Linked DNA regions of Homo sapiens. The protein of the gene in region 2 interacts with the protein of the main gene of each other region in a pairwise test. Each region holds a gene or a part of one and is shown on either strand. Other genes may lie near its edges. The genes, in order: TRIM9 and UTP25.

Evidence for each region.
Region 1: the proteins of UTP25 (region 2) and TRIM9 interact in binary tests that used the Homo sapiens proteins (3 or more experiments, as listed by UniProt).

What each region holds. Positions count from the first base shown.
Region 1 is NC_000014.9:51,085,042-51,092,128, forward strand, and holds part of TRIM9 (E3 ubiquitin-protein ligase TRIM9), read right to left. Parts: intron 1-7,087. UniProt on the Homo sapiens protein: E3 ubiquitin-protein ligase which ubiquitinates itself in cooperation with an E2 enzyme UBE2D2/UBC4 and serves as a targeting signal for proteasomal degradation.
Region 2 is NC_000001.11:209,851,899-209,858,079, reverse strand, and holds the end of UTP25 (U3 small nucleolar RNA-associated protein 25 homolog), read right to left. Parts: 3' UTR 515-6,181; downstream 1-514. UniProt on the Homo sapiens protein: Component of the ribosomal small subunit processome for the biogenesis of ribosomes, functions in pre-ribosomal RNA (pre-rRNA) processing. Essential for embryonic development in part through the regulation of p53 pathway.

The DNA.
Region 1 (7,087 bases), on a different chromosome or scaffold from region 2:
ATAATGCCTTAGACTGATAGACAGCGCAGGCCAGAACAGTGTTATTCTCTCAGGCTCTCCTGGAGCATGGGAGTAAGTGATGAATATTTGGTGCCACACAGTTACTTCTTAAAGTGCAGGCTGCAAGCAAAGTAAGAGTAAGAGGAGATGAGCAAAAACCTCAATAAAACTGACTGATGCTACCCAGCTAGAAAGTCAGTGTCACATGAATAAATCAGCGGTGGATGAGAATTAACCATCTACATGTACTCCTGACAGAAGGTGGCTATTCCCGCACCAAAGAATAATGTTTAGCATTCTATTTCCAAAGCCAGCTCTTTAAAAGGGACAGTTTCTTCTTTGATCAGAACTGTTAGTATAAAACACGCAGTTCTGCTTCTATGCAAGGCTATGAAAAACAGTTTTATTTGGCAGTGTTTAAATCCATTCTTAAACGATATCCTCCTCGGTTCACATATTCCTTTTTATATGGTGAAAGGTGGATCAGCTTTCTATTCTGAACTGGAATACGCATATTTTCTTTTAACCACATAGGCAAAAGGTACAAGAAAAAACTGAAAGTAAACAGATACTTGCTTACAGATTTAAACATGTTTTGTGTTTTCAAAAATGGACTTATAAATGTTTAGATGTGTAGAAATAAAGATACTTAAAATGCCTATGGATTTTTATTTTTAAAATCTACTTATTAGTTTATGGTTTTTTTGGTCTGTAATTATTAAAATCTACTTATTAGTTTATGGTTTTTATGTCTGTAAATTTTGGGATGCATTATTTTGTTAGAAGAGAGACAATGCTCCATGGTTGAGCTGGTAAAATCTTACTGTCTATTTGTTACTTAGTTCTGACAGAGAAGCAGGATGAACCCCATCTCTGTCAGGTAAGGTAATTATATAGGTAAGGTAATTAGGCCTATACCTCCGATGATCTGGTCTGTGGAATATTCAACATACTTGTCACCTCTTTCCTCATGCACCACAATTTCTTTTCTAAATTTATTTTGTCACAAGGAATCTTAGGAGAAAAATGACTCAATTTCTCAGTAATTTTCATATACGAGAACTAAAGGAGTCCAGCTATTTGTTATGTCATTGAAGTTTGTAAGTTCATAAAACTGTGCTTTATAGGTATGCTTCCTGGGCTTATCAGAAAGTAGAACAGAACAGCAGTTAAACATGTGAGTTGTAGAGTCAGACAGCCAGGATTCAAACTCTGACCCTGCCAATTACAACGGGTGTGACTTCATAATCTTCCTGTGTTCCAGTTTTCTCACAGGAAGATGTGTGGATTATGAAGATTAAATGAGAAAATGCTGTAAAAATCTTTAGAGCAGTGCCTGCATGTAGTAAGTGCCCAGTACATTTTAGCAAAAAGTATAAAATACAGGCTTTCAAATTTAATGATTACTGTCAGGCTAATTTGAGAAATTTAAAATACCGGGTTATATTGCTAGTTATTAGTCTTCCTCTACTGATTATTTTCTTCATTGAACCAACCTTTATCTAACTTCTACTAAGTACAGAAACGGAGTAAAAGAAGATAGATAAGAAACAGTCTATGGAATTGAGTTATTAGGGTTCAGTGGAAGATTTCTCACAGAAGCAATTATAATACAGTGGGAGGATGCTCAGGGTTAGAATACAGATATGGACGCTATGGAGGAGGGTGAGCTGAACAGGTGACAGGGCTGGGAAGAGAGTCTGGGACCAAACTGTGAAGAGGAAGGGGACTGAAATGACCAGATCTGTTTCAGACAATCAGGTACAAGCAGGAATTGAAACCACGGAGTGGATGAGTTTCTTGAGACAGGCGTGTTGAGGAGGGGGGAAAAGTAAATGATGTTTATTTATTCATGACTAGACACTCAAAAAAAGTTTTCTTGCTTTTGCAGCTTAAAATGAATCAGCCAAAATGAAGAAAACTCCCTCTCTACAGTTATTTAATAAAAAAGTGTCTGCAATTAAACACAGCTGGGGTGGGGGGAGGTGGCGGGCACTGCTGGTGCAGGTGTAACTCTGGTAGGTGGGGTAGCAGCATCAGGTTCCCGGTTGGCAGGCTGGTCTGGTCCACAGCTGTGGAGGCTGACTCATCTCAACTGGGTGTGGCCAGGTTAGTTGGTCTGGTGATCTGAAGGTTTGGTCTAAGAAACTGGGGGAGGGCAAGCGTAGTGGACAGGAAGGGAGGGGCTCTATGGAGAAAGTCAGAGGGTGTCAAGGAGAAGATAGCTAAGCAGGCAGATGGGATTGTGACTAGACCCATGGCCAACATGCTGCACTTTAGGCCTGGATAGTTTAAAAAGAAGGCAAAACCAGGGCCAAACAAAAGTGAAATGATGTCATGATGATTTCCCTGACACAGATGCAGTTAGAAAAAAGAAAACCTGCTGTTAGATATATTTTGCTTAGGTTTCTTGGGTAATCTCACTTGGAGTTAGGTCTCAGTTTAGGATAGGGGCCCAGTTTAGGGTTGTGAGAACACCCCAGGGGAATGATCTTGGCTTTGAGATGTCCTTTGGGCTGAATTAGATATGCTGCTTAACAAAACCTAGATGGTCTCTGATAGTGTAGGTACACTGTGGTGGCCATTTTATAGATAACTCTTGTTCTAAGGTTAAAAATTGACCCAAAATGTCAATATAAAAATATTAGCAAAACCTGGAATGCATTAAACAAGCATTTACTTCATAAGTTGTTATGCTATGTTGTCCCCAGAGCAATATTAAAGTTTTAAGCTTTTCATATTGTCTTTTTCTGCTCATCAAAAGTATCTTTAAAACAATCTATTTTTGTATACCACAGATTAATGAAAAACTCAATTAGACCAGTCATTTGGTATCATGTATACAAAACCTAAAAGTAGTCTAAAGTAGAATGAAGTGGTGGTTTTTAAAATTATATTACATTAATATTCCTCATGCCTAAAATCATTTTTTGAGTTATTTACAATAGAAAGGGGGACAACATGTATTCCAGTCCATACATATAAATACTACAAAACTTATGTTAATTATTTTTACCTCTTTGACTTTTAATGTTTAAAAAATAAAATAAATTTAACTTTTAACATTTGCTTTAAGAATTAATGCAAGATTTAAGATTTAAGGATAGGTTTGCTGCAGGCATAGTTTTAGGTATTCTAATCTACATAGACAAGAAATGAATAACAATTACTTACTAACTTATTCACTAATAACTACCTGAACTAGTGTTCTCCAAACTTGTGTGGCACTCTAACAGAGTTTCCAAAGTTAGACAAATTTGGAAAATGCTACATTGAATCAAGTGGCTTTGTTTGTTGCAGGATGTGTATACATAGGCATATTGATACAATATACAATGTGAACTACCTGCAGCCTGTTCAGAATGGAGAGTCTCAAACTTATTTAACTATGGAAAACTCGTGGGAGCAGAGTTTGAGAAATGCTGACCTAGAGTATAGATAAAACAAAAAGAATTGTGGAGTGCTCATACATATCTTCAGAGGTTTTCTTGCCTTTGAAAACAAACAAATCAATTATTGGCAGAAGTTCGATTTCAGGACCTCCCTGTCTGGCCTAATGTTCTTAAAAGTGTCATCACTACATACATGGAGTAATTTCGAGTTGGTAAAAAAAAAAAAAAATCTCTTCGGCCTCTTTGTGAAAAACCTCACAATAAAAATAACTGAAGAAAATAACCAAAAGGCTAATAAAAGCTACCTAGTGGTGAATGGGTAGATAACATTGAATATGATATGATTTCTGCTTCATTGAATCAAAAACCGCCCCTCTATTTGTATTTATGGCATCAGAATGCAGCCTTCTAAACACAATATTCTAAAGACAATATCTAGGATGAATAAAAATTAGAATCTTAAAGTATTTACATGTGTTAATTCATATGCTTTTGTAAGTCAGGACTTCTTGGTTGCAAGTGGCAGGAAACCAACACAAACAAGCTAAAGCAAAGAAAAAAAAAAAAAGACTCTCAGTGGACACTGACATGAATAAGTAAGAAATTAGATGCCATTATAATTCACTGAGATTCGAAGATTTGTTACTGGAGCATAGTCCAACCTGACTGATGCTGAGAGTGAACTTAGTTTCTAGCTTTATAGTTCCATTCTCCTTGTGAGTTGATTTTATTTCACTTCCCATGAAATCCTCTGAGATCACCTAAGTGGGTTTCTGATCCTTTCAATGAATAATCCCTGATAAAACTGATAAACAAATGATATTTATTTATAACTATTTGATTCTTAAACATTTATCTTGTTATAGGTTCTTCTATCCTTCTGTAGGCCAAAGTTAAGTTGTATGTGTATATACACTTTGAAAAGTCCACCAACTTGTTTAGGTGAGGAAAGTGCAATTTATCATACTGATGGTAAGGACAAATGTTCCCTGTACATTATTTTCATTACACAAGAACAGATGGCTGTGATAATTGTCTCTTACTTTATGCAAACTGTGATTTGACCTGAAACTCCAATTAATAGCATCTTTTCATGGCATATACAGGAGAAACAATTTCTGCTACTTCAAACTGGTAACAATATCTTTATTGGAGAATCTGAAAAAAACGGAGCCTTATCAGCTATTTCAGCTTACTTAGAGAAAAACAGAATACTTTTGTTTAATATATAAATCTTTGTATAGTATTCTTATTTCTTGAGCTTAATTCAACTGAATATTCTCTCTGGACCCATGAGGAAGAGTCTCACTCTTTTAGGCCACCTTTCAGAGCAGCTTTGGACTGTACCCTATGCTCTGAAAAGGATCCAGAAAAGTACCCCAAGTTGGGGGATGAGATTTTTACGCAGTAATTGTTGACTGGTGAGACATTGACTCTGTTTGACATGAATGTTTATGGTTGTGTTGAACTGAAATTAGTAAATTATAAACATTTAATTTACCTTATCAAAATCCTTTCACAATTGTAATTTTAACTCCCTTATATCTTTGTAGGTGGGAAGTACAGACAGGTGATGATACTTGCAAAAAGTTTCCTGCAAGTAAGTGGCAGCATTGGTTCTATAACCTGGATCTCCTGTTATCTAGTTCTTTCCATTATGCCTGGGTACAAAGAGGAATAACTGTCTTCTCTGTAACATTTTCCTTAATATCTGTAAAAATGTTTACATGGCACACAGAATGTTCTAATTGTACTAGAAGTAAATCAAAAGAAATGTAAAAACATGAACATATGCTGCCTGTTACATTTACCACAGGAATATATAGACTATATTGTGTTTACTGCTGACATATAGTTAACTGAATATCATTTTAGTGGCATTATATAACACATTTTGCTACATAAATATTTAATGAGATGCCACCATAAAGCTAAGCAGATATTTTTCTCCAGGATATTTTAGAATTGAAGGCATATTAACTGACAGTTTATTTTAAAATATTGTTTAAATTGCAAATTTTCATTTATAAAAACAAAGGTAAGAGAAAAATAACATTTGAGACAAGATTAAGAATGAATAGTGTTTAGAATAGAAAGGAAAAGAAAATCTTTGCTCAGTAGCATGAACACAGAATAATTGTTACAAATATGTTACTGATTCAGTGACTTCATTTTTTTATTTTGAGACAGTCTTGCATCGTCACCCAGGCTACAGTGCAGTGGTGAGATCCTGGCTCACTGCAACCTCTGCCTCCCAGGTTCAAGCAATTCTCCTGCCTCAGCCACCCAAGTAGCTGGAACTACAAGGCATGCACCACCATGCCCAGCTAATTTTTGATTTTTCAGTAGAAATGGAGTCTCAACATGCTGGTCAGGCTGGTCTTAAATCCTGGCCGCAAGAGATCTGACCGCCTCGGCCTCCCAAAGTGCTGGGATTACAGGCATAATCCAGTGCACCCAGCCCTGATTCAGTGACTATTGAAACCCCAGGAATTCAAGGATAATATCAGGATTTAGGAATGTGAACTGCTTAAAATCACAAAGTAATAGTAGTGGTTTCTATTGCCCATTTTAAAGTATCTACAAAATCACTTTTTTGGTGTTATAATTCTTTTAACAAGTACGTTGAATAAAGGAATATAGTTAAGTACTGGCACTAAATAAAAACTGCTACCAAATATTTGACTTATAAGACCATTATTATTATTATTATTATTCATGTGTTATTATTTTTCATGGAGTTTTGAAGACCAAAAATATCTGAAAAACATTTTAATCTGGCCAGTTGAAAACTAGTGAATTTCAACCAGATGTTTTTAATACCACTTTAAAAATAAACTGCAGCCATTTTATTATATCTTGAGTGTGTAAGATGATGATTTATGCCTGTGGGAAATACTTATCTGCAGGACTTGCTTTATCAGTAGAAATGACTAATATGATAGAATATGAATGACAACTTTTCAGGTCTAGTAATAACCTGTGTTGATAACTAACTGCCCAATTTTGGAAACCTAGTTAGTATAGTTCTTTGCTGTCCTATTTTTGCAGGGCATAGAAATTCTGGCCCATGGGCTTTTGTGGAGATAGAAGTACCATTAACTAAAACATAAACTATATGAGAAAACTGGCTGCTAACACATTAACTTCCTTATTAAGTAAATAAGGTGGGGGAGTAATGTTTGTTGTTCATCTAACAGATGACAAGTGAATGTTAAAATCTGTCATCCTTCTGTCTTATTTTTTTTCTTGGCAGTTTAGTAATCCTCATATTGACTGAACAAAAATTATGTGTCCTTACTGTTTTGGAAAAAATGTGCAAAAGATCAGAGAATAAATGGTCTTCTAGCCTACTTATGTCATGTTTCAAGGGTTTTAACATTCTTTTGTGGCAGGTAGATATCTAAATCTCAACCCAGGCAGCACCAGTGTCTGTCTACTCATAATTTCTATTGCCAATAAAACAAATGATTTAACATTTCAAATTGACATGGGGCTTGACAGAGATTTAAAGGTTTCTTTTGGTCTTAATAGATCAAGGATAGGCTTGTCATAAAAAAAATAATAATGTTGTGGTTTACCCATCCTAATTACCTTGTGGCTCTAAATTCTTTTTCCTGACAGAGTGATTAATTTTTTAGTTCCAAGGATACTTTGTAGGGCAATTCAACATGGACTATAATTAGCAGTTTAAA
Region 2 (6,181 bases):
CATGCTGCTTTTGTGAGCTGTAACACCGCGAAGGTCTGCAGCTTCACTCTTGAAGCCAGTGAGACCAGGAACCCACCAGAAGGAAGAAAGTCCAAACGCATCCGAACTTCAGAAGGAACAGACTCTAGACACGCAGCCTTTAAGACCTGTGACACTCACGGCGAGGGTCCGCGGCTTTATTCTTGAAGTTAGTGAGACCAAGAACCTACCAATTCCGGACACACTGGATTTACAGGTGTGAGCCATCCCTTAGTCCTTTTAAGAGTTCAACAATTAGGATTGCTTCATTAAAAAGGGTAATAATAACTACTATTTATTGAGTGCTTTTATTGTTTTGTTTTTAGAGAAGTAATTATCTAGTAAAAACAGTGTAGGTTTTCAGGATTGTGCTGCCTGTGTGGAAATCGGGAAAAATAAGGATGCTTACCTTAAACGGGTGTGAGGGATTAACTGATGTAATACATGCAAAGAGCTTGGAAGAGTTGCTGGCGCTTAATCAGTACTCCAAAAAATGTTACCTTCAAAACCACCTTTTAATGCAAAAGCATATATATACATACACACACATTGTTGGTTATTATTCATGCAGAAAACAATCTGGGAGGAAACATAAGACATTAATAATGATCACCAAATAGATGTAGTTTGATTTTTGTTTTTCACTATTTCACTTGTATTTGTGGAATGGGCATGGGTTGCTTTTTTAATAAGATTAAAAGAATAACTTTTCAGGAAAAAAAAAAGTTTAAGGAAGTAAGGATGATTGGCCTGGAGAAGCAAGTTTCATAGGAGACATGGTAGATGTATTCCAATAGTTGAGCCTTAAGTGGGGAAAAAAAAAATTTGTACCGTACAGCTTCAGAAACAGGACTGATGGATAAAAGTTTCACAGTGTTTCTAACAATCAGAGATGATTAGAAAAGCCACAATGAGCACCCCATCCTTGAAGGAATTCAAGCAGAAGCTGGAGGCCACCTCTTAGGGATGACCTATAGGTAATTCACGGATCAAGTGGCAGATTAGATCACAAGACCTGTAAGTTTCTATCGAATTGGGGATTCTGACTTATTTCCTATTTGACCTAATTTAGCTTTGACATACACTAGAAGAGATGAGAAACAGGTGGTCATCAGCCTTCAGAGAGCTGAAGTCTGTTCTCTTGCTAATTATTTTTCTGCAACGATCACTGTTTCTATAAATCTTATGAGAAGACACTTGTGTTCCCTCGTTCTATGGATCCAGTGTGGAATGGACACGTCAGAACTGCTAGCAGAGACATGTGAGTGCCCACTCCTCACGCCACCAAATGGCCAGCATCAACCCTGAAGTACAGTCTCAATGTTGGTGCTTGCCAAGAACAGACGAAAGAATAGGCAGTGTCTTTGGAGTTCAGGAGTCTGTGATGCCATTTTTGTCTTCTGTATCAGTCAGGAATGGCTAATAGAGGCCTGGCCTAATGGCTTAAACAAATTAGGTGTTTGTGTGTTCACGTAACAGTAGTGCACAGGAATACCATGCAGGACTGGTATGGCAGCTCTACAACATCCTTGCAGAACCAAGCTCCTTTCTTCACCACTCTCCTACGTACAGAGCTTATAGCCTCAGGAGCTTCAGCCATCACTTCTGCGTTCCAGGCAGGAAAAAGGGAAGAGCAGAAGGTAAAAGTGGTGCTCCTCTGAGTTTTAAAGAACTCCCCTAGAAGTCCTGCTCAGTAGTTAGTGCTTCTGTCTCATGGGCCACATTTTACTGCAAGGGGTGGGGGATGGAAAATGATGCAGTGTTTTTACTAGGTACTTTGTTATCTCATTAAAGTCCAGCGTTCTGGAACTAGGGAAGTAGGTGGATATAGGGCAAACAATAGCAGTCTCTTCCCTTCTCACACAGTCCCTCTATAAGGCTAGTGGGGATTACTCCATACTTCATAAAGATGAGAAAACTGAGAAGTGGTCGTGAGGACTTGTTTAGAGCCACAGAATGTCAGTGGTGATGTTGGTCCCAACACCCAGCTTTGAAAAAATGAGAGAACACAAAGAAACCCATGAACATCTGTGGACAAACACCAGCTGTGAGCCCAGGGCCACCTCTCCTTGCGGAATCAAAACTGGCAGATGAGAGAGGCTGCAGAGGTCAGTGAGGACGAAGGTGGCAGGGCACTGGGGCAGATGTTTCAGTGATGGTGCTCCATGCTCTGTGTCATTCCTTAGGTTGGCAAAAGGTAGACAGCTTTGGCCTTGGCTCAGCTGGGAGAACAGATGGGCAGGAATTCAGCACAACTCCTAAATCAGCCAAGCGGCAGACTGCCTCCTTTCCTTCTCTGGGTCAGCCAAGGCTACAGTTTCCACCTGGTCACAGCCAGCTGCAGAGGCCCAAGACTGAAGCCCATGACAGCTCGGCGAGGAGCACCTAGAAATGTGCCATCCCACACCTGACTGTGAGGGGCCATCAGGAGAACAAGCAAGGGCAGGTGTTTCTTCCAGCAGTGAGGGGACATCTGTACTGAGCTGCCCAGCAGGAGAAAGATTAGATTTCTCTGTGCAAAGCAAACAGCTCCTTATGGCAGTCACATACCTGTCCTCACTCCTTTTGAGCATAGGGCTATACTGAGAAAACCAGTTTGTTTGAAAAAGGCCTGGAGCTCTGTTCTTTCTCATCCCCTTTATCTACCATAGGAATAATGGCAACGTGACCAGAGGTGTAAGGGGAGCCTAGGACCTACTCTGAAATACATGTAATGCAAGTGGAGGCGGCAACTCCCCACATCTGAGGAGGGGAAGGTCCTCACAGAAGGGAAACAGGAACAAAGCAAAAGTAGACAGGAACATGTGTTTAGCTTTAGACACAGGACATAAAATGCAGTTTTGCTGCAGTTCTGGTGAGAGCACGTGGCATAGGAGGAAGACGGCTGAACGTCGCGGGGTTTGCTTGGGAGGAAATGACCAAGCCCAGAGGGAAAGAAGCGTTCCCTCTTTCCCCTTCCAATGCTTACATCAATTTTGGATTATCTGTGTATTTACTCCCCATTCATTGACTCTAATTAAAAGTTGACTGAAATCTGTTTAGAATTCTATGTAGCCAGGCTTTCAGAAAAGCTTTTTAAAATAAGTGTGGAGTAGAAATTTGGTAATGAAGATCACTACCATGCTCCTTTGAGAGAAAAGATGGGAAAGGGACTGGAAGGAGAGGATGGCTAGACGGAGGGAGGGCTAGCTGTGGTGGCCCCACGCTCCTCAGAAGCCGTGCCCTGAAAAGAGCCACTTCTGAGCATTCCACTGACATTACTTTTCCACGAAGCTTTGGGCACCTCAGGCCCCTGCAGTTGGACAATGAGGCTCTTCAGACAACTATAAAGAACTTCCAACTCTTGCTCCCTCACCCCAGGCCTTCTGTAATCTTGAGACCCTAGATCTGCTCACGTGGGCTTGGGAAGGCTGGTCAGATGGCCAATAGGGTCTGGCCCCACCTGCCTTTCCCTTTCCTCCTTCAGCAGCATAGCTCCTTGCCCTCACGAGGGCACAATCAGGGCTGAGAGCCTTCATGAGCCCCCCTTGGTCCTCTGGGGTATGAGGAGTCAGCAGGGACACATTCCCCATCTCCACTAGGACCATCTGTGCTCAATTATAAGCCCTTTGGAAGCAAGCAGAGGGCTGTTTAGCTGCTGCTGGTTCTCTATGATTAGCTTGTTCTTGTTTTTTGAACACTGCACGTGGTGCAGCCAGCTGTGAGAAGCATCCACGATTCAAAGCTTTTTCTCTCTCAAAAAGAAAAGTGCTAAGCTGGTTGTTTTAACTATGGGAAAAGAAAAAACATTTAAAAGTGTTACTTTCTGGGTAAGTTCCTTTCCATACCTTTTAATTCCACTGTTTCCAGGATTGGGACCATCCTTTGTCTATATTTCAGACCCTATATAGGCACTTGCTTGCTGCAAATGAGCCTTGTTAACATCAAGGTAGTGTGTAATTCCAGCTCACGCATCCGTATTTCAGTAGCCTCTCTTCTCGCTTATTGTGTGTTGAGAGAGACCAGATCTTCAAGGCATCCTTTTAATAAAACCATTGCAGAGACTCCACTCTGCAATGCACTAAGGAGCCAGGGCTAACTGCAGAGGCTTACCTTCTTTTCAGGTGCTGAGCCAGGAACAAAGCAACACTACTTTGTTCACACTTGAAATCCTCAGTGTTCTCTGCAGGCAAGAAGCAGTTGGCTGGGTTTGGCTCTATGCCAGCATGAAAATCACTAGGGGTGCTTAATAAAATGGTTATTTCTGGGGCTACATCATGGATTTGAAATCCAGACTCACATGTGAGTGGAGAGCCAGAGAAGCTGGAGATTTGGGAGTCGTGTGAATAGTAATAATGGAAACCACGAGATGAACTACAATTCACAGGCAAAAGAATATGGCAGTAGAAAAAGATGTAGGTAATTGGCCAGGCGTGGCGGCTCAGGCCTGTAACCCCAGCACTTTGGGAGGCTGAGGTGGGCAGATCACTTGAGGTCAAGAGTTTGAGACCAGCCTGGCCAACATGGCAAAACCCCATCTCTACTAAAAATATAAAAAATTAGCTGTGCATGGTGGCATGCGCCTGTAGTCCCAGCTACTTGGGAGGCGGAGGCACGAGAATCGCTTGAACTCGGGAGGCACAGATTGCAGTAAGCCAAGATCATGCCAGTGTACTCCAGCCTGGGCAACAGAGCGAGACTCCATCTCAAAAAAAAAAAAAAAGATCCAGGTAATTACAGTCCCTTCGCCTCACATTTCTGAATGAGGTAAATAAACTCATTTCTTATTCTCATAATATACAGGATCTATGATAAACAGCAGCACAATTACGCCAGTAACCACAGGGCATGCCTATAGATACAAAAAGTTCTTTGTAGCATGGGTTCGGTCGGCTTTTATCTAACTAAATTTTCTGAAATTTAGAAAACCATCTAAATATGGAATAAATGGTTTTACTTACCATGCTGAAGAAAAAGAAGTAAAAATGTCTAAATATTTAGCAGAAATATTACTTCAAAACTGATTTTACTTTTTGTTTTTGCTAAGTAATTTTAAGCGTGCCCAAGGATAAAAAAAATCTGTACCAATCATGGGTTATTACATTGAGGATAATGGGAGCCACTGTCTGAGAAAGGAGTTATCAATATGGAAAGAAAATGAGAAGCAATCCTGTGTTGTTGGACTAGAATTGGAGGTACTGGTGTGAATTCATGGTTTTCAATATATGGATATGAAAGTAAATTTAGATATTAATGTGAAGCAAATTTAGACAACGTGTGTACATATGTGTGTGCATACATGTACACAATTCCCAAGTTCTGACCACTGAGCCTGGGATGAGTGGCACCACAATAGTAAGCACTCCAATCTAACCTTTTATAATAATTTCCTACTAAAAGCAAGCAGGGCTGGAGTAGAGAAACCTGGAATGTCTCATTGTCAAAAAATACAGCAGTGCCCAAGTAGATGGGGGACATGTCAAAAGTACACAGGGGCTAACCTGAAGGTGCTCCCAGCGGCCATATTTGAGACCAGTTACGCATCTAAAGAAATAATGATGTAACAAACCGTAACCCATTGAATAAAAGAAGAAACTACGAGTCCATACTAGGATGAGTTGAATATCTCTTATCTGAAATGCTTGGGACCAGACGTGTTTCGAATTTTTTTGGATTCTGAAATATTCACATTATCCTTATTGGTGGGGCATTCCTAATCACAAACAATACCCTTAATTGTTTACAGGAAATATATACTAAAGTATTTAAAGGTGATAGGCCCACTGGGTTGGCAACTCACTCTCAAATGGTTCAGGTTCTGTACTTGGAATTTTTCTGTTTGAGAATGTTTCAAAATAAAAATGTTTTTAAAAGTGTAATTTCCTTTTTATTTGCATCTGTTTATGACTGAAAAAATGACTAGTTATTATGAAGACACTACTGTTGAAGATGGATATTTTAACATGGAGTTTCAACAAAATTACTTCTTGAGACAGAGCTGATGTGTTTTTTAAATAACGTGATTTTAAGCATATATTTGAACAAAACTAAAACATTTAGTATTATGAATATGAAAAAAGATCAGTAAATCAATGTACTCTTCTAGGCTGAATTAAGGTAGACTATTTAAGGTTTCAAAAAAGTTTGGCTGGGGCAGAATAAGTTTTACAAAACCCATGCCATC